Homo sapiens: one gene and its partner. The gene in region 2 interacts genetically with the main gene of each other region. Each region holds a gene or a part of one and is shown on either strand. Other genes may lie near its edges.

The links.
Region 1: changes in PTK7 (region 2) and NPR1 together harm fitness more than expected from each alone (negative genetic interaction), as found in Homo sapiens cells (one study listed by BioGRID).

Annotation. Positions count from the first base shown.
Region 1 is NC_000001.11:153,672,637-153,683,119, reverse strand, and holds the start of NPR1 (atrial natriuretic peptide receptor 1 precursor), read right to left. Parts: upstream 4,433-10,483; 5' UTR 4,012-4,432; coding exon 3,291-4,011; intron 2,620-3,290; coding exon 2,420-2,619; intron 1,941-2,419; coding exon 1,827-1,940; intron 1,417-1,826; coding exon 1,281-1,416; intron 623-1,280; coding exon 531-622; intron 1-530. UniProt on the Homo sapiens protein: Receptor for the atrial natriuretic peptide NPPA/ANP and the brain natriuretic peptide NPPB/BNP which are potent vasoactive hormones playing a key role in cardiovascular homeostasis.
Region 2 is NC_000006.12:43,070,383-43,081,054, forward strand, and holds the start of PTK7 (inactive tyrosine-protein kinase 7 isoform a precursor), read left to right. Parts: upstream 1-5,931; 5' UTR 5,932-6,106; coding exon 6,107-6,185; intron 6,186-6,431; exon of another isoform or gene 6,432-6,501; coding exon of another isoform or gene 6,502-6,604; intron 6,605-10,672. Other genes in the region: KLC4 (kinesin light chain 4), read left to right, coding at 1-73, 310-483, 893-992, 1,185-1,237, 1,470-1,540, 1,765-1,873, 2,442-2,582, 2,841-2,956 and 2 more. UniProt on the Homo sapiens protein: Inactive tyrosine kinase involved in Wnt signaling pathway. Component of both the non-canonical (also known as the Wnt/planar cell polarity signaling) and the canonical Wnt signaling pathway.

The DNA of each region.
Region 1 (10,483 bases), on a different chromosome or scaffold from region 2:
TCAGGGAGTTTATAATCTTGGTTGAAGTACCAACCAAGCATTGATTTTTCTCTACTTATTTTCTTGGTAGAAAACAGGAGAAGGTAATGTTCACCTTAGCCTACATTCGCAGGCCCAGTCCATGTGCCCGTCTTCCAGGAGGCCTTCTCTGGATGACCTGTCCCTTGTGGCCATTGGCCTCAGCGCCTTCCTGTCCCTGCTCGCTTGCAGAGCTGTGTAATGTGCATCTTTCACAGCCCTGTCTCTGCTGGGAGGCGGTCCTGCCTGCCTCCCTTCGGAGCTCCCCGAGGGCAGGCTTGTGCTCCCTCCTCAGGCATGGGGCTCCCCAAGTGTGATGCCTGTGAGTCCCTATCATTCTGGTGGCTTCCCCAGACTGGAGCTGGGTCTGTTTTATCCAGGGCTCTTGTAAGTGTCCAGGCATGGTGGAATGGCTACAGGATAAACAGGTGCCCTGGCAGGGCTGTGGGGGGGAAGTAGGAGGGTGAGATGTCATTTGGAATTGGCACTGTCTTCTGGGTGCACAAACTTACCCTGAAGGCACCATTCTCGGGATCCATATCCCAGAGGGAGAAGTCTGTTTCCCGATCGCCACTGCTATCAATTTTCAGGTATCCTGTCACACCTGAGGACATGGGGGAAGATGACTATGTTTGAGAGAATAGAAGTTCAGGGGTGCCCCACTTCATCTCTTCATCCTCTAATCTTTTTTGCCTTGCCTTCCAAACATACATGTATACAGAATGATAGTAAATGGTAAAACGGCCGGGCACTGTGGCTCATGCTTGTAATCCCAGCACTTTGGGAGGCTGAGGCGGGCAGATCACCTGACGTCAGGAGTTCAAGACCAGCCTGACCAACGTGGTGAAACCCTGTCTCTACTAAAAAAAATACAAAAAATTAGCCAAGTGTTGGTGGAGGGCACCTGTAATCCCAGCTACTCAGGAGGCTGAGGCAGGAGAATTGCTTGAACCTGGGAGGCGGAGGTTGAAGTGAGCCGAGATTGCACCACCACACTCCAGTCTTGGGGACAGAGCGAGACTCCATCTCAAAAAAAAAAGAAAAAAGAAAAAGAAAGGTAAAAGAACTCAGTGCCCAGCAGGGATGATTGAGATTGGACACTTTGTAGGACTTCTGAGGGATGGGCCTGAAAAAAGCTGTGGAGGAAAAGGCTGGTGTGCATAGGTAACTGCTGCAGGACAATAGGCTTCTCATGGCTTGACACTGGGCACCTGGGATTCATCCCCCAAGGCAGCCCATTCCAGCCACCTCCAGGCCCTGACCTTGAAAGCTTCGGTTCCACATCCGCTGAGTGATGTTCTCCCCATCAGTAACAGTTCCCCCATGTGCCAGAGTCTCCGTCACTGCCTGGATATAGAGCAGGAGCCCGTCGTGGAAGGATGCTGGGATGGTGTTCACCTGTAGGGGCAAACAGAGGTCGGCTGGGGTGGGCATATGAAGGGCATGGAGGTGGGAGCTGTGGGGAAGGGAACAAGAGGCACTGGGATTTTGGAAGAGGATGGGAGAAAATAACACCCCTATATCACAGGGAGATTTTACTATTTAAACGATGCCTTTGGATTAGCATCACTTCCTGAATCCTACTAGGTAGACAGGGCAGGATGTATCGTCTCCATATTACTGATGATGACCTGAGTTTCAGAGGCTGAACTTGCCAGTGTCCTCCTCCATCATCACGAGAAACATGGAACAATGGGAAGGGAGGGAAGGAAGGGGAGAACTGGGAATAGGGAAGGATGGAGGCTGGCAGAGGGTCATGGAGTGGGGGCTGGAGGTCCACGCTGGAGGGTCCCGGGACCCCTTCTTACCAGGCCATCCTCCATGGTGAAGTTGAACTGCTCATAGGCCAGGTGTTTTAACTGCTTCAGGAATTCCAAGTACTCGGGATTATCTGGGTCTTTATATGTAATGATTTTGGCAGCCTGAGAAAGGGGTCAGTGGAGAGCAGAGAGTTGGGAGCTGACTATTCCCTAGTACTGTGGGGCCCCAACAGTTGGGAGCCCACCTCCCAGAGCTGCGTCTCTGCTTAGCTCAAGGTCAAACTGGACCCTATGCCCTGCATGAAGTGATGCCCATTCCAAAGCAGGGGATCCAATGGGATGCCTTCTCCAAGTCCTGTCCAGGCTGTGGGACTTTATCCTCCTCCCGCCTCAAGCCCATTTTCTTATCTTTTTAGCCTGCTGGTGGCGAAGCGCCCCTGGGCAGTCCCCTGCCCTTCATTGCCTAATTCCCAGTGAGCATCACCAACCTCTTTTCTGTTCTGTGAGTTACCAGGAGTGCATAAAGAAACAAACAGACAAAAACCTCTTTTCTGGAATTCTTTCAGACGCTGAGGGACACAGTGCCCAGAAATGATGTGCCACAAGCTGAGACAGCCTGGGCTTCAAACCTAGGTACTCACCTGAAAGGCCTGGCGGGCACTGACATCCTGCCCATCCCCTCTCTCCCAGGGCCTGCGGGGAGCAGGGCCCTGTCCACCTTGCAGGCTTTGCCCAAAGATATCCAGGTGGAAGAAAACGTAGTCCTCCCCACACAAGCCAGCTTCCAGGGCCAGGAGCATGAGGGTTCTGAAGGCATCAGGGGAGCTGCAGATGTAGATAACTGGAGAAAGACGGAGAGTCAGAGAGAGAAGCCTAGGTACTGCGGGAGAGACAGGAGTAGGAAAGCTGGGGCACCCAAGGGAGGAAGTTTAGAGATAGGGTGCAGGAGAGACCCAGTGAGAGTTAAGTGGTAACTCCCGGCTCAGCCTAGGCCACAGCAGGAGAAAGTCGAAGGGTGGAACGGGCGGGTGCGGGGCGGTGGGCGGGAGGAGGAAGGGGGAGGCGGAAGGGAGGAAGGAACGGGTAGGGAGAGGGGGATAGTGGAGCTGAAGGTGGAGAAGGATGGGGCCAGGAGGGAGAGAGGAGGGAGAGGGAGGGGGAGAAGAGAGGGGATGAGGCGCAATGAGAGGAGAGGATGAAAGAAGGGAGAAGGCTATAGGGAAGAGAGAAAATGTGGGAGGGAAAAAGGGACCGGAACCGAGCTGTGCTAGGGTGGGAGGGAATGAGTGGGGGTCGGGGAGATGAGAGGATAGAGACGTGGTGGGGGTGGCGGAAGAAGAGAGGGAAATAGAAACTCAGCTGTAGAAAGGGCCAGGGAGCTGAAAGTAGAATGAAGAACGGCGAGGAGAAAGAAGAGTGCCCCCAGATGAGAGAGAAAGTCCCGATGCCTCCGGCAGGTCAGAGGGGAGGCCCTGCGGCTAAGCGGCGGGACGGGGTGTGCCAGCGTCTCACCTCGGCCTTTGCGCGGCATGGTCCGCAGCAGCCTGGTGTAGTGGCTGAGGTCGTCCTCGGCGAACTCCAGGTGGTCCACCGTAATATTGAGGCGGTCGCGGACCCGCATGAACAGCCCCTCCACGAGGAAGAAGCAGTGCTCTTCGTCACCCGGCCGGTAGGCGTAGAGCATGAGCGCTTGGCGCTCCCAGCCCAGCCGTCGGTGCAGCGCCGCCACGAAGTCCCCCAGCTTGGCGTAGCTGGGCCCCGCGCGGGTGGTCAGCGCATACTCGTCCTTGACACCGAAGCCCAGCGCCGGGGCGCCGGCGGTCAGCAGCGGGACCCGCCAGTGCGCGGTGAAGCGCCCCACTGGGGCGGCGGCGTACACGCAGCCGGGGCCCAGGAACACAGCGGGGTTGTGCTCCCACTTGAGGTCCACCGCGGCCAGGGGCGCTGCGGTGTCGGAGCAGACGCCCAGCGCGTTTTCGCTGCTGCCCAGCACCGTGCGGACCGTCCAGCCCGGCAGCAAGTCGGGGCGCGCCTTCACCTGGGCCAGGGCCAGCTCCACGGCGGGTCCCACGCGCGCCCACGACCAGGGGTACGAGGTATTGGCCAGCGGCAGTACCACGGCTACCGTCAGGTTGCCCGCGTGGCTGCCCCGGAGCAGCAGCAGCAGCGGCGGCAGCAGCAGGAGCAGGAGCAGGCGCAGGCGGGAGCCAGCGGGGCGCCGGGGCCCCGGCATGGCCTCAGCGGGCACCGCAGCAGGCGAGCGCTCCTACCATGGCCTCCTCGGTCCCCTTGGGCTCAGCGGCCGGTCCCAGGCATCAGGCGCGTCCCTATGGGAAGGAGCAGGAGCGGGACGGGGACGCTCACCCCGGGGCTCGAGGCCCCCTGTAGCTGCGACGGTCTGGGCCGAGAGCGCAAGGGGCGCGACCGAGGGGGGCGCGCAGGGCGCCGCGGAGCAGGTGGGTGCCAGGAGAACGTCGGGCTGGAGAGGACCCGAGTGTGAACAACTGGGAGTGTGCGTGCGTGTTAGAGAGAGAGAGAGAGAGAGAGAAAGGGTGCGAGTGAGCGCTTCGTGAAGAAGGATGAGAGAGGGCGCGCGAGGGAGGAAAGAGGAGTGTGTGTTTGTAGCGTGCGTGAGCGCCTGCCCCAGGGAGTGTGCCAGAAGGGGCGTCCGGCCGGCCCAAGTCTCCGGCTATCCGGAGGGAACCGTGGAGGACCCGAGCCAAGCTCCGAACCCTCCCTCCCAGCCGCTTCCCCTCCCAGACTCAGTGACAGAAGAGCCAATCCAGGATCTTTAACTCCTTCCTCCCCGCCGCCCAGCCCGCGCGCTTCCCCGTGGACCATCTTCCCCGGTCTCGGCCGCCCCACGCCTACCTCTTTGGAGGACAGGACCCTCTGAAGGTGCGCCCTCGCCGGGATGGAAAGGACGGCTGAACGGAGGGTGTGTGTGGAAGCAACCGGGGCCCACTTGCGCCCCACCTTTTCCCTCGCCTCCTACCTGGTCTCCTCGGGGGAAGAGGGAAAGGTGTGCTGGTTTGGGATCCTGGCAGGAAACTGAGTGAGTGCGTGGATGTGTGTGTTTGGGTGTGGGGTGGAAGGTGACGGGTTTCTGGAAAGTCCGTTAAAGTTGAAGGTGAGCCCAGAGTGCTTGTTACCCATTCCTTCTATGATCTCCCTCTCTTTCCCTCCCTGCCACCTTCCAGACTGTGCAGATTAGCTGTGAAAAAATGATCTGGTGTCAGAGAGGAATTAAATCTTTAGCGCCCAAATTGTAGGAAGATGGGGAGAGTGGGTGGGTGTCTGGGAGGGAGGAGGTTCACACCTCAGGGACGCCCCAAGAAAATGACTGTTTTGTGTTGAGGGTTGTTAAAATGAAGGCTGTGGGAGATGACCACTGGAGGCGTAAATTGGGGAGTGGGTTTTGGAGCACTTGACAGCTGGGCCCCCGGTGCAGACTGCTGTGGAATCAGTGTGCCCTCTAATGGTCATCGGGGGTTATTGACGGCATTGCAGCGCCAACCTCTCCAACGCTGCGCCTAAGCAGGACATAAGATCACCAAACTTCAGGTCAGCAAACATTTCCAGAGAACCTTCGGTGCATTAAGCACCCACTAGGTGCCGAGGGCATAAAGATGAATATATATAGTCCGTGCCTTTGAGGAGCTCCATTTGGGACAAATAACCGTAATGCAACATGCATTAAGCACTACAGGGGAGACATGGATAAATTGCTAAAGGACTCAGATGAGGGCTATTCATTCTGCTTGGATTGGGGCCAGAAAATCTCCAAAAAAGAAATAATTCAAGAGGATGGAAGGATGAGAAAGGTATTCTGTGTAGACAGAGCAGAATGTTGAAGTACATTTCCTATATATGGAATTTTAGGAGACTTGAATATTCTTATTATCTAGAGCAAATTGTGGTCGATAGGCCAACTTGAGATGGCAGGCATGCTTTGGCTTGCATTCTCTTTATGTATATTGTATTTAATTCCCCACACTTAAATATCATAAGATGGGGCCGGGCAAGGTGGCTCAAGCCTCTAATCCCAGCACTTTGGGAGGTCAGGGTGGGTGGATCATGAGGTCAGGAGTTCAAGATCAGCCTGGCCAAGATGGTGAAACCCCGTCTCTACTAAAAATACAAAAATTAGCCAGACATGGTGGCGGCCGCCTGTAATCCCAGCTACTTGGGAGGCTGAGGTAGAGAATTGCTTGAATCCGGGAGACAGAGGTTGCAACGAGCCGAGATTGCGCCACTGCACTCCAGCCTGGGCAACAGAGCAAGACTCCGTCTCAAAAAAAAAAAAAAAAAAAAGATGGTACATGAATATTTGGATTTCTGACTTTTTTTTTTTTTTCCTTCAAAGATGGAGGTCTCCCTATGTTGCCCAGGCTGGTCTTGAACTCCTAGGCTCAAGCGATCCTCTTGCATTGGCCTCCCAAAATTCCTGGATAACATGTGTGAGCCACCAGGCCCAACCTGGATTTCTGACTTTCCTTAAAATATTGGAAGAGCTGGCAATATATTGTCCTGCATCCCTCCATGAGCAATTAACCAGAGCAAGTATCCATTATCTCCTTGAAATGAGTCTAGTTCATTATGGTTCCTAGGCACCCTGCTTCACTCAGGTGCATTACCTGCCTGGCTGTAGTAGGAGTTTGTGTTTTCAGCCCTGATCTAGGATGTAAGGTGTGTGCATGTAGGATGACTGAGGAAGAGAGGCAGGGAAGAGGGCAGTGGAGGGAAGATTATGAAAGCTTTTGTGTGACAGGCATAATGTTCTTGTCCTGTAATGGAGATGGCGGATTCCAGAGATTGTAGAGGTAGACAGCAGATGCAGATGGGGAGATGTTTTGTAAGTAGAATCAGTTGAACTTTGGGAAGTGAGGACATTATACAAATAACAGATCTAGGTGATGTTGATCCCATTAGCTGAGAAGCTGAAGAAGGTTTTGGAAGGATGATACTTTTAGTTTATTGGATGTGAGGTGCCTATAGATAATCAAGTGGAAGTGTCTGATAGGCCTCGGACTAGTGGAGCTGGAGCTCAGAAGAAATGACTGGACTAGAAATATAGTTTAGTAATTGAGCTCCTTTCAATAATGGTGAACTAGCCCTAAAGCTACAGACAACTAAAAGTGTTGGATGAAATACTTTTTTAAAAATCAAAGAACTGGCTGGGCATGGTGTCTCATACCTGTAGTCCCAGCACTTTGGGAGGCGGAAGTGGGCTGATCACTTGAGGCCAGGAGTTCAAGACCAGTCTGGCCTTCATGATGAAACCCCGTCTCTACTAAAAATACAAAAATTAGCTGGGTGTAGGCCAGGTGCGGTGGCTCATGCCTGTAATCCTAGCACTTTGGGAGGCCGAGGCGGGTGGATCACCTTAGGTTGAGAATTCGAGACTAGCTTGACCAACACGGAGAAACCCTGTCTCTACTAAAAATACAAAAATTAGCCGGACATGGTGGCGCATGCCTGTAATCCCAGCTACTCAGGAGGCTGAGGCAGGAGAATCGCTTGAACCTGGGAGGCAGAGGTTGCGGTGAGCCAAGATCATGCCATTGCACTCCAGCCTGGGCAACAAGAGTGAAACTCTGTCTCAAAGAAAAAAAAAAAATTGGCCGGGCTTGGTGGTGCATGCCTGTAATCCCAGGTACTAGGGAGGCTGAGGCACAAGAATCACTTGAACCCAGGAGGCAGAGGTTTCAGTGAGCCAAGATTGCGCACCTGCATTCCAGCCTGGACAGCAGAGCAAGACCCTGTTTCAAAAAACAATAAATAAATAAAAATAAAAATAAAAGAACTGGGCCGGGCGCAGTGGCTCAAGCCTGTAATCCCAGCATTTTGGGAGGCCGAGATGGGCGGATCACAAGGTCAGGAGATTGAGACCATCCTGGCTAACATGGTGAAACCCTGTCTCTACTAAAAATACAAAAAATTAGCTGGGCACAGTGGCGGGCGCCTGTAGCCCCAGCTATTCAGGAGGCTGAGGCAGGAGAATGGCTCGAACCTGGGAGGCGGAGCTTGCAGTGAGCCGAGATCGCGCCACTGCACTCCAGCCTGGGTGACAGAGCAAGACTCCGTCTCTTCAAAAAAAAAAAAAAATTAGCCAAGCGTGGTGGCAGGTGCCTGTAATCCCAGCTACTCGGGAGGCTGAGGCAGAATTGCTTGAACCCAGGGGGTTGAGGTTGCAGTGAGCCGAGATCCCACCACTGCACTCCAGCCTGGGCAGCAAGAGTGAAACTCTGTCTCAAAAAAAAAAAAAAAAAAATAGCCGGGCTTGGTGGTGCACACCTGTAATCCCAGCTACTCGGGAGGCTGAGGCACAAGAATCACTTGAACCCAGAAGCAGAGATTGCAGTGAGCCGAGATCACACCACTGCACTCCAGCCTGGGCAACAGAGCAAGACCCTGTCTCAAAAAAAACAATAAATAAATAAATAAATAAATAATAATAAAAGAACTAATAAGATAGTGAGGCCAGGCACAGTGGCTTACGCCTATAGTCCTAGCACGTTGGGAGGCCAAGGCAGGTGGATCACCTAAGGTCAGGAGTTCGAGACCAGCCTGGCCAACGTGGCAAAACCCCGTCTCTACTAAAAATACAAAAATTAGCCGGGCGTGGTGGCAGGTGCCTGTAATCCCAGCTACTTGGGAGGCGGAGGCAGAATTGCTTGAACACAGGAGGCGGAGGTTGCAATGAGCTGAGATCGTACCATTTCACTCCATTTCGAGCAAAACTTCATCTCAAAAAATAATAATAATTAAAAAAATAAGATAGTGAGAAATTATTGGTGTGACAGCATGAAAGTACAGGAAAGTAGAGAAGTAAGCCCAGCAGTAGGGCTGATTTTACCCTGGGGTCATTTGCTGATTTGGAATTAGTGGCAGAAAATAGGTTGTGTGGGGCCGGTGAAGTCCAGGCCGGGTGTGGTGGCTCACACCTGTAATCCCAGCACTTTAGGAGGCCAAGGCGGGAGGATGGCTTGAGCTTAGGAGTTTCAGACCAGCCTGGGCAACAGAGCGAGACCCCATTTCAATTTTTTTAAATTAAAAAAAAGAAAAAGGGCCAGGCACGGTCGCTCATGCCTGTAACCCCAGCACTTTGGGAGGCTGAGATGGATGGATCATGAGATCAGGAGTTCAAGTCCAGCCTGCACAAGATGGTGAGACCCCCCATCTCTACTAAAAATACAAACATTAGCCAGGCGTGGTGGTGCATGCCTGTAAGCCCAGCTACTCGGGAGGCTGAGGCAGGAGAATCACTTGAACCCAGGAGGCAGAGGTTGTAGTGAGCCGAGATTGCGCCACTGCACTCCAGCCTGGGCAATAGGGGGAAACTCACTCTCAAAAAAAAAAAAAAAAAAAGGAGTCCAAATGTCCCCAAAGGTGATAACCTTGGTAAACCACCTTCGTGTTTTGGGCTAGGATCTCAAAAGGCTGCACTCCTAGGGGCAACCTGGGAGTAGAATAAATAGAAAATCTAAGGTCCTGCTTGGTGCCTCACATCTGTAATCCCAGAACTTTGGGAGGCTGAGGTGAGGATCACTAGAGCCCAGGAGTTGGAGACCAGCTTAGGCAACATAGTGAGACCTTATCTCTACCAAAAATTAAAAAATTAGTTGGGTGTGGTGACATATGCCTATAGTCCGAGCTACTCTGGAGGTTGACACAGGAGGATCGCTTGAGCCCAAGAGGTTGAGGCTTCAGTGAGCTGTGTTTATGCCACTGAACTCCAGCCTGGGCAACAGGAGTGAGACCCTGTCTCAAAAATAATAATAATACAGACCCAAAATATTAAAAGACCAAAATTAAGAACCAAATGATAGATTTAATACTATGTTAGACTAAACTGAGGAGCAAGTAATAAATTGGAAGAAAGGACAGCAGAAACTACCTAAAATGAAGAATGGATAAAAAGGAATGAAAAGCATAAAAAGAGAGGGTAAAAGGCCTTTGCAGTGGCTCATGCCTGTAATCCCAGCACTTTGGGAGGCCGAGGTGGGTGGATCACCTGAGGTTGGGAGTTCGAAACTAGCTTGAGCAACATGGAGAAACCCTGTCTCTACTAAAAATACAAAATTATCCAGGCATGGTGGTGCATGCCTGTAATCCCAGCTACTCGGGAGGCTGAGGCAGGAGAATCACTTGGACCTGGGAGGCAGAGTTTGTGAGCCAAGATCACGCATTGCACTCCAGCCTGGGCAACAAGAGCGAAACTCTGTCTCAAAAAAAACAAAAACAAAAACAAAAACAAAAACAAAAACAAAAACAAAACAAAGACTAGCCTTGACAACATATAAAGTACCCCATCTCTACAAAAATAAATAAATAAGTAAGCCCGGGGCCAAAGGAGGTGGCTCACACCTGTAATCCCAGCACTTTAGGAGACAGAGGCAGGAGGATCACCTGAGGTCAGGAGTTTGAGACCAGTCTGGCCAACATGGTGAAACCCCATGTCTACTAAAAATACAAAAATTAGCTGGGCAGGGCCGGGCATGGTGGCTCACGTCTGTAATCCCAGCACTTTGGGAGGCCGAGGCGGGCAGATCACTAGATCAAGAGATGGTGACCATCCTCGCTAACACCGCGAAACCCCGTCTCTACTAAAAATACAAAAAAAAAAAAATTAGCTGGGCGTGGTGGCGGGCGCCTGTAGTCCCAGCTACTCGGGAGGCTGAGGCAGGAGAATCGCTTGAACC
Region 2 (10,672 bases):
GCTCTATGGCAAAAGGGGCAAGTACAAGGAGGCAGAGCCTCTGTGCCAGCGGGCACTGGAGATTCGAGAAAAGGTACCCATGCCCTCTCTCCCTTCTTCTCTTGTCGCTGTGACCCTTCTCTACATGGCTCCTCTGGTCTAACCCTCCTCCTTCACTTTTTTTTTCTCACCCCCATCTCTGCTTTGTTCTCTCTTCCTTCATTCCCTTTCCTCTGCTTTCCACATGTGTGTGCCTACATGCAAACACACGTGTGCTTGTGCACACACATGTTATCATAGCCATTTATCCACTCCTTTGTTCCCTTTCAGGTCCTGGGCACGAATCATCCAGATGTGGCAAAACAGCTGAACAACCTGGCCCTCTTGTGCCAAAACCAGGGCAAGTATGAGGCCGTGGAACGCTACTACCAGCGAGCACTGGCCATCTACGAGGGGCAGCTGGGGCCGGACAACCCTAATGTAGCCCGGACCAAGAACAACCTGGTATGGGAGGAGGGACAAAGTAGGTGGAAGAAACGGAGAGGGGGGCACAGAGGTGGGGGGAGGGGGGGCAGGCGGAGAGGCCACTTGGGTCCTAGAGTCAGGAAGCATCACAGTCTGGCACACTGCTCTCATCAACTTTGTGCTCATGTCTGGGGCTGCCTTTGCGGATGAAGGATCTGCTTCATTCCAGTTATAGAAGTTCCACAGCTTCTTGGGAGTGGGCTGGGAATACCCTTGACCCTACACCTGGAGAAGGAGGTGTGAGAAAGATCTCTGGGGAAAGTGAGAGAGACACTGAGAAGTGGAACTCCCTGAGCCTGGTGAAGACCTTGTCTAAAAAAAAAAAAAAAAAAAAGACCTTGCCTCCCTCCATGTTTTGTTCCTGTATTTTTGCCTTTCTGTCCTCCAGGCTTCCTGTTACCTGAAACAGGGCAAATATGCTGAGGCTGAGACACTATACAAAGAGATCCTGACCCGTGCCCATGTACAGGAGTTTGGGTCTGTGGATGGTGAGTGGTGAGGGCCTGGGGAAGGGGCTGTGGGGAAGAAAAGAAATTCAGACCAAAGGTCGGGGGTTAGGCCACAGCGGTTCCCAGGGGGAGCCAGACCCCTTCAGTCCAGCCTGTCAGCCTCTGGGTCCTGGCTCTCCGACACTGTCTAGCTCCCATCTCTAACCTCCCCACCCCATGTATCACCCCTAGATGACCACAAGCCCATCTGGATGCATGCAGAGGAGCGGGAGGAAATGAGCAAAGTGAGTGGGGGGAAGGGGGGCCAGCCTGGGGAGCTCAAGGCTACCGGGGTCTCTGTCTTACTCCTTGCATTAGCCCAACTCTCACTTCCCATCCCAGCACCAGCCCCAGATGCATGGTGTCCTCCCCAGCCCAGCCTGCACCCTAGCCCCATGCCACCTTGCATCTCAGCATCTCTGTATTCTTATATTTGGCTCTCCCTGCCCTTCTTTCTGGCCTCTCTCTGTCCTGCAGAGCCGGCACCATGAGGGTGGGACACCCTATGCTGAGTATGGAGGCTGGTACAAGGCCTGCAAAGTGAGCAGGTGAGCTGACAGTGAAAAGCCAGCTTGGCCTCCGATGCCCTCCATCCAGTCCCTGCTCCCAGCCTCCCAGACCTTTTCCCTTCCTCCCGTAGACTTTCCCTCAGCTTTAGCTCTGTTCCCTCTCCTATTTTCTTATTTTTTTTCCTCTTGTCTTGCTTGGAAGACAAATGTTTTGTTTTCTGAACTCATTCTCTCTTCCTTCTCTGGTCTCTTTCTCACCACAGCCCCACAGTGAACACTACTCTGAGAAACCTGGGAGCTCTGTATAGGCGCCAGGGAAAGCTGGAGGCTGCTGAGACCCTGGAGGAATGTGCCCTGCGGTCCCGGAGACAGGTCAGAAGCCCAGAGGGGAAGGAGGTCCTAGAGGGAAGGGCCCTGGGGATGAGAGAGTGCCGAGGTTTCTTGGGAGTCTCCTAAGAATAAGCGGAAAGGCTGATGAAGCCAGGAGGGAGAGGAAAGTGAGGCAGTGTTGTGATTGTGGTTGTTTTTAAGCATGTTCTTACCCCCCACCTGCATTTTGTGGTCAGGACTCTAGTTTCAAGATTCACTAAATGGGGATATGAAGGAGAAACCCTGCCCTTTCATAAGGAGGGGACCTGGGTGGTATGGGTGAGAGGAGTGAGGTTGGGGAGAGCCTAAATCAAGAATTTCTTAGATTGTGGGTCTCAATAGTAGGTTGTGAAATCAATTCAGTATGGGCCATGGGGATAAAAATATATACAGATCTATATATAGCAATGCATTGCAAATAGAAAAGGTAAGTATTATTCCAGTAGGTATAAACTGAGACATCACAAGGAAAAATGTTTTCCTTCCAGTGGCTGATGGTGAAAAAAATTTGAAAGCCCCATCCTGAGGAGTTAAGGAGTAGGAAGTCCCAGGTCCTTCCTTTTCCTTCCAGGGCACTGACCCTATCAGCCAGACGAAGGTGGCAGAGCTGCTTGGGGAGAGTGATGGTAGAAGGACCTCCCAGGAGGGCCCTGGAGACAGTGTGAAATTCGAGGGAGGTGAAGATGCTTCTGTGGCTGTGGAGTGGTCCGGGGTAAGTCTGATCATTGCCTTTTCATCTCTCCTGCCCACTCCTGCTGGTGGTGGTGAGAGGCTCTTGGCCATGCTGTCCCAGTCTAGGTAGTGTATTCCTTCAGGGGTATCTCTGGGAGCCAGTTTTTGACAGGACTTTTATTTCCAGTCACTGGGCCTTGGGGGTGGGGGATGTGTGCAGAATAAATGCTAGGAGTAGACTCAGAAACCCATCTGTGTGGGATCCTTGTAGCTTTCATTGCTCACTCCTTTCTGCCAGGATGGCAGTGGGACCCTGCAGAGGAGTGGCTCTCTTGGCAAGATCCGGGATGTGCTCCGCAGAAGCAGTGAACTCTTGGTGAGGAAGCTCCAGGGGACTGAGCCTCGGCCCTCCAGGTATACATGGAAGTCAAGATACAGTAAAGTGGCCGGGTGCAGTGGCTCACGCCTGTAATCCCAGCACTTTGGGAGGCCGAGGCGGGTGGATCACCTGAGGTCAGGAGTTTGAGACCAGCCTGGCCAACAAGGTGAAACTCTCTCCTAAAAATACAAAAATTAGTCGGGTGTGGTGGCAGGTGCCTGTAATCTCAGCTACTTGGGAGGCTGAGGCAGGAGAATTGCTGGAACCCAGGAGGCAGAGGTTGCAGGGAGCCAAGATCATGCCATTGCACTCCAGCCCAGGCGACAACAGCGAGACTCCGTCTCAAAAAAAAAAAGAAAAAAAAAAAAGATATGGTAAAGCAGGCAAGTAAAGTAAGCCCTTGCCTCCAACTCCTCTTGGCTCCTGATCTCTGGAGAAGTATCTCGGAGAGAAACAGGGAGGAAGTCAACGGGCCAGCCATGGAGAGAGAGTTTGGGTAGAATGGGTGCCCCAGTGTGGCAGTGCTCAAGAGGCCCACAGCCTTAAGGCCACTCAGGAGGAAGAGAGGAGGCCTCAATTCTTCCGTTTTCCATTGTAGCAGCAACATGAAGCGAGCAGCCTCCTTGAACTATCTGAACCAACCTAGTGCAGCACCCCTCCAGGTGAGAGCAGTGCTTGTGAGCATATTGGTGGGTGAGGAAAAAAGGACAGCCAGTGAGCAAGCCCAGTGGAGTAAGGGAAGAGGGAAGGGAGAGGAGTCATCTGGGATGAAGATGAGCCAGGGGATTGCAGTCATTAAGGAATCAGGCAGATAGCTTGTGGTGAGTGCTGACCACCAAGGGACAGTTTCAGGCCAGACATAGTAGCAAATAAGTTAATAAGGAGGGAAATAGGAATATTCTGTAAACTGGTACTTTGGAATTATGAATAATTTAAGAATTATTTGGAGATACGAATTATTTTTTCATCCTGCAGCCGCCTTAGTAGTAGATGAGAATGGAAAAAGAAAAGTATTAAATAATCCCCATCTGAGAAAACACTAGTGATATTTTAATGGCAAATGACTTCTTGTATCAACACACAAGTATATGCCAGTATTCATGTGGTTCTTCCAGGTAGCTTCTCCACCAGATTGTGGCCTTCTGGAAAACCCTAGCAGAGGCTAAACAAAGTCCCAGGTCCAGAGATAGACTGGTCCAGAGACAGATGTGATCCTAGGTCCAGAGATACACTGTGACCATGGGATGGATGGACTCTAGGAGCCAGTCTTTGGGAGGCCGAGGTCCCTGAGCTGATGGGGTAGTGTTGTCTGTTTCAGGTCTCCCGGGGCCTCAGTGCCAGCACCATGGACCTCTCTTCAAGCAGCTGACATTCAACCCGGCCCCCAGGTCTGCTGGGTCCCCCCACCCCCACAGCCCTCACAGCATTCCCCATTGCTCCTGGCTCTTCCCCACCCCTAGGTGGGACAGTGAAGGGGAGCAGTTTAACCAGAAGATTGCTGCTGCCCTTAGGGTCTCAGCTCCCTCCTCAGGAATCCCTCTTAGGAAGGACCCTCAGGACACCCTCTCTGCACCCTGTGGTCCTCTAGAGTAGCTAGCTCTGAGGCCCCAAGGTGGGTACAAAGCAGGTATGGCCCTCAGAGATGCAGCCTGCTGCTGGCTTTTCAGTCAGAGGGTTGGGGGCTGGCCAGCCAAGCTGCCTTGCCCTGGCCGCTCTTACTCCCTCCCTCTGCTGTCTCACTTCAGGTCCATGTATTTCACTTTTCTTAAATAAAAGAATCAGGTAACCTTTCTGTGACTTGAGTCCTGATTGAAGAGGGTATGAAGCAGGGCTTGTGTTGGGGCCCTTCACAGAAGGTGAGGGGCAGTGATGGATGGAGCAGCAGGAGGAGTGTTGATTCTTGGATCTCTCCTCTCTTCCTCCCGTTGTTTGTATCATCTCCAGCAGGGCCTGTAGGAAGGCATCTGGGGGATGGGGAAGAAGGAGGCTCACAACCCAAGGAGAAGGTGCTGTGGACTGGGTTGTCAGGGACATGTGGTGGCCATGTGGCAGGACCCTGGAGTCCTGGCGCCACTTCTCCTGGCTGTGAGGCCCTCTGTGGCTGCCATTCCTCCTCCCAGCTGCTTGGGGGAAGGGAGGTCTAAACAGGCCTGGGGGGCCCTCCGGAACCAGAGGGGAGACAAGGCACTATCCATCCCCTCTCAGCATATCTTGGAGGCCTGAGCAGCAGCTGGGGCCCATCTTCTAAAGCTTGACTCCTCCTGACCCGCCTCCTACACCCCTTGCTGCTTTCACAACAAAGAAAGAATGTGGGGGTGGTGGCGCTGGGGGTGGGGGTGCCTGGAACAAGGGTTGTGCTGGGCCTCCCCACAGCTGGAGACTTGGCCATACCCTGACACAGCCCAGACTGCCTGGAGATGGACTTGGGATGAATTTGTCAGTTAGCAGACTTCAGCCTGGCTTTCAGAGCCCAGCGTGTTTCTACCTTTGGGTTCAGATTGGTCTACAGCCAAACCAGACCCCAGTCATGCACACTTCAGCCCCTCTCCGGGCTACACAGCATCTTCAGGTTACTTGGGGACATTAAGGACACCCTGCTGTTCTGGGTCTGCCGTTAAGATTTTGGGTTGCTGAAGAGTTGGCGGGGCCCGCCTCTTCCCCTGCCCCCACCTGGAGAATTCTGGGGGAACTGTTGGCCAGAGCCTCCAGGTATGCCCAGAATGGACCATTCTCCCCAGGGTCCACGGAATCGCACAAGTCACTTAGGTTCTCCCGGATCCCTGCAGAGTCGGTGGTGGGTACAGCAAATACTCAGGTCCCCTGCACTTCCCTGAGCCTTGCTCTCTCTATTCTCCATCCCTCTCCAGACCCCTCCCCCTACTGAGCTCCTCCCCGCCTCGGCGAGGAGGGGGCGTCGAGGGGGCGGGGCGCCGTGCGGGGGCCGGAGGGGAGGGGGCGTCGTGGGGCGGGGCTTGGCGGCGGCGGCGGCGGCGCGCGGGGACTCGGAGGTACTGGGCGCGCGCGGCTCCGGCTCGGGACGCCTCGGGACGCCTCGGGGTCGGGCTCCGGCTGCGGCTGCTGCTGCGGCGCCCGCGCTCCGGTGCGCTCCGCCTCCTGTGCCCGCCGCGGAGCGCAGTCTGCGCGCCCGCCGTGCGCCCTCAGCTCCTTTTCCTGAGCCCGCCGCGATGGGAGCTGCGCGGGGATCCCCGGCCAGACCCCGCCGGTTGCCTCTGCTCAGCGTCCTGCTGCTGCCGCTGCTGGGCGGTGAGTACCCGAGAGTTGGGGGCACAGAGCTTGGGAAGCGCGGGAGTCCCGTGGGCAAAAGGCTGCGCCCGGGGCGGTGGGTTTGGGCGGCTGGAACGGCCCTGGAGTAGTGGAGAGGCTCGCTGGGGGTGCAGGCTTGCGGCGGAAGGGCGCAAGGAGCCCGGGTGTCGGGAGGCTGGCGAAGCCTCCAGGGACGCGGTCAGGGTACCCCTCCCACTCGCGCCGCGGGGACGCATTTCCAGCCTCCCTGAGTTTTTCTGGTCTGAGCCGAGAGTTTGCTCGAGAACTGCCGAGAGTTGCTGGCTCTCGGGCCCAGATGGGGAGTTTCTTGTCGGGGGAGAAAAGACCATCCGCACCCACCGTGGGGAGCGCGATGGAGAAAAAGGAATTCCCCACCCCACCCGGCAGGGTCGGCCCAGGTAAGAGTTGCTGGTTTGGGGCCCGATGCCGGACAGACCTGCGGCGCGCAAAGCGCGGAGCTTTGTTACCTACGCCGACCCGACGTTCCCGGCTTCCCTCCTCCGAGTTCCTGGGCAAAGCTGAGACCCCAGATGGCCCTGCGGGTGAGGGCGGAAGAAGGGAAGAGTTAGGGGCCGCCCCCATCCATGGCCTCTAGCTACTGGTCTGGAACCCTGCGCCCACTCCGTGCCAGGGCCGAATCCGGGGATCCGAGGGTCCCAGGCTGTCGCGGTGACTAATGTGTGAAGGCCGCTGCCAAAATCGGGCATGGCCTGGCTGCAAAGGTGCGGACGGGGTTTGTTCTGCTCCTTCCTGGATTTCCATCCTGACTGTCCTCACAGAGGAAAGGAAGTATTTCTAAGGGAAGAAAGGCAAAAAGAGCTCATTCTGGCTTTTCTTGGGGGGGGGCCTTAGCATTTTAACGAGGGTGTGGCCCTCATCACCAGGGCAGACAGCACCGCCCCCCCAACTCCCGCAGCTTTTATTTCCTGGCTTGGTCACACCTAAGAGTCATCACTGAGGTGTTGAAGTGCCTTACAGGAAAGCACCAAGCCACCCGCACATCCCAAATAGCCCGGACTGGAAATAAAGCCCCCGACCCTCCACAACACTCCTTGGTGGTCCTCGAAGCAGCTTTCTCTTGGGGAGCTCTGTCGAGGAGACCTGTCCTAGGTGATCACCTTCCATCTCCTTTGAAGGTGGCAATGGGAAGGGCATGGGTAAGGAATTGCCTTTCTAATATCTTTCTGGCCTGCCAGCTGTGGAGGGGTTTTGGTGCTGGTGGAATCAACATCTCCCCTGCCCCCAGTTGTAAAAGGAGAGGTAAATGTAACCCAGGAAAGAGACCAATCTCCAGGGATTTGGAGGAGGTGTTTCTGGAGTTGCCCCGTTTTTCTTGTGATGTGTGTGGTGGTTATTGCTCGTGGCAGAATCCACATCTGCTCCCAGAGGAAGTATGGAAGTTTTTTTGCACAGCCAGGATGGGGGCCCAGCCATCTGGGCGAGCAGCCCAAGCTCACAGGCCCCCTGGCTGTCCTGGTTGGGTTTTGGTGTGTGGGTCTGCCCAATGAGGCTGCCTTCACTGCTGCTGTTCAGGGTACTAGAGTCAAGGGGAGTTTCTGGTGAAGATGGGGCTCTTGCTCAACAAATGCTGAATTCCTAAATTCCTTCCATGAGAAGATGACTCTGATGTTAATTGACTTAATCTGGTGACTGGTTGGTGTTTAGTGTGTGTGCGCGCGTGTGTGTGGGGGATCCTGTTGGGGGAAGTTAGGGCAGGCTGAGGGCTTAGGACAGGAGGTCTGTAGTCTCCTCAGGGGTGGGGGGATGTCTTGTGCTCAACAAAGGAACATTTTAATGAGAGCCTTAAATCAATTCCACCAAATGTGCCTTGTTGTGGAACCTGTCCATGTGCTGTAAACAATTTCAGTGGAGGCCGAGGCGCCTGCTGTCTTCTAGTGAAATCCTGGGACTCAACCCACCCCCAGACGCATGACTTCAGGGGCAACGGTTTTTTAATAGATCACAGTAGATGTTTGCATCTCATTGTTTAATTGTGTAATTAACTGGAGTTGTAGTGAGATCCCACTGTTAATAAGGCTGGAGTAAGGAACCTAGGCTGGCTAGGTTTGTGGATTAGACCATTTTAAAGTCTGGGTAATTATGCCATAAATGGCAGAGTTACTTTCCAAACTTTGAGATGCTGTTGTAATAAATATGGTGGAGGAGGAGGAGGCTTGATGTTTGAAACTATGGATTCTTAACCCCAACCTCTTGTACAGTCAGCTGTGGTCACTTCTCATTCCAATTCCCATCCCCCTCCCTGGTTTCTTTCCTCCGGGCTCTTGTTTCTTTGGGGAAATTGAGTCGTCATGTTCTGGGATAGGCTGTCTGCAGATTCCTCAAGGCTCTGCAGCCTGTAATTCAGGCCTAGGAGTTGCTTTTATTAGTGATGGCTTTTCTCAGCTGTTGGGAAGTATGGTGGCAGGGCAAGGGTGCTCTTCTTGTCACTTGTCAAATGATATACTCAAACTCCTGGTGTTCAGAGCAGCATTGAGTGGTGGACAGAGCTCAAGCAATGGAGATAAAGTATGGTCCTTCCTTGGCATCTGCAGGGAATTGGAATAGGACTCCCTGAGAATAACAAAATCCAAGGGTGCGGCCAGGCCTGGTGGCTCACGCCTGTAATCCCAGCACTTTGGGAGGCCGAGGCGGGCGGATCATGAGGTCAGGAGATTGAGACCATCCTGGCTAACACGGTGAAACCCTGTCTCTACTAAAAATACAAAAAATTAGCCAGGCGTGGTGGCGGGTGCCCGTAGTCCCAGCTACTCGGGAGGCTGAGACAGGAGAATGGCCTGAACCCGGGAGGTGGAGCTTGCAGTGATCGTGCCACTGCACTCCAGCTTGGGCGAGATCGTGCCGAGATCGTGCCACTGCACTCCAGCTTGGGTGACAGAGCGAGACTCCGTCTCAAAAAAAAAAAAAAATCCAAGGGTGCTCAAGTCTCTTATATAAAATGGTGTCGTATTTACATATAACGTACACACAACTTCCCTGTATACTTTTGTTTTGTTTTGTTATGAGACAGGGTCTCCTCTATCACCCAGGCTAGAGTGCAGTGGCACAATCTTGGCTCACTGAAGCCTCAAATTCCTGGGCTCAAGCAGTCTTCCTGCCTCAGTGCTCTAAAGTATGAGGATTACAGGCATGATCCACTATGCCCAGCTTCTCCTGTATACTTTAAATCATCTCTAAGGGCCAGGTTTACGCCTGTTATCCCACCACTTTGGGAGGCAGAGGGAGGAGGATCGCTTGAGCCCAGGGGCTCAAGACCAGCCTTGGCAACACAATGAGACCTCCACCTGTACAAAAAAAAAAAAAAAATTGCCAGGCATGGTGGCACGTGCCTGTGGTCCCAGCTGCCCAGGAGACTGAGGTGGGAGTATTGCCTGAGCCCAGCAGGTTGAGGCTACAGTAAGCCATGATTGTGTCACTGCACTTCGGTCTGGGTGACAGAGTTCAAAAAAAAAAAAAAAAAAAAGGGCAGGATGCAGTGGCTCACGCCTGTAATCCCAGCACTTTGGGAGGCTGAGGTGGGCGGATCATGAGGTTAGGAGAGCGAGACCATCCTGGCTAACATGGTGAAACCCCATCTCTACTAAAAATACAAAAAATTAGCCAGGCGTGGTGGCAGGCGCCTGTAGTCCCAGCTACTTGGGAGGCTGAGGCAGGAGAATGGCGTGAACCCGGGAGGCAGAGCTTGCAGTGAGCCGAGATTGCACCACTGCACTCCAGCCTGGGTGTCAGAGCGAGACTCTGTCTCAAAAAAAACAAAAAAATCTGTAAATTACTTGTAATACCTATTACAATGGAAATGCTATGTAAATAACTGTTGTATTCTTTAATTTGTATTCTTTTTTATTGTTGTATTGTTTTTAATTTTTATCTTCCCCCAGTGTTTTTGATCCTCTGTTGAGGGATGTGGAGCCCAGGGATAAGGAGTATATCTGGCAAAGCAGCAACTCAGACTCATTGGCAGGCCCTGTGGCCCTGGATGAACCTCTTAGCTTCTCAGCCTCTTCTATAAAGGGACATCCTAGAGTTGTGCTGAGGATTAAGTATAATGAAGTAGGCCGGGTGCAGTGGCTCACATCTGTAATCCCAGCACTTTGGGAGGCCAAGGCAGGCGGATCACCTGAGGTCAGGAGTTCAAGACCAGCCTGGACAACATGGTGAAGCCCCGTCTCTACTAAGAATACAAAAATTAGCTGGGTGTGGTGGCACACACCTCTAATCCCATCTACTCAGGAGGCTGAGGCAGGAGAATCACTTGAACCCGGGAGGTGGAGGTTGCAGTGAGCCGAGATCGCGCCGCTGCACTCCAGCCTGGGCGACGGAACGAGACTCCGTCTCAAAAAAAAAAAATACACACACACACACACACACACAGCCCTTTCTTGGTCTTCCCTCTGTGGTGTGCTTCAAAGATTCCTTCAGCTTTACAGTCATTCCCAACAATAGACATT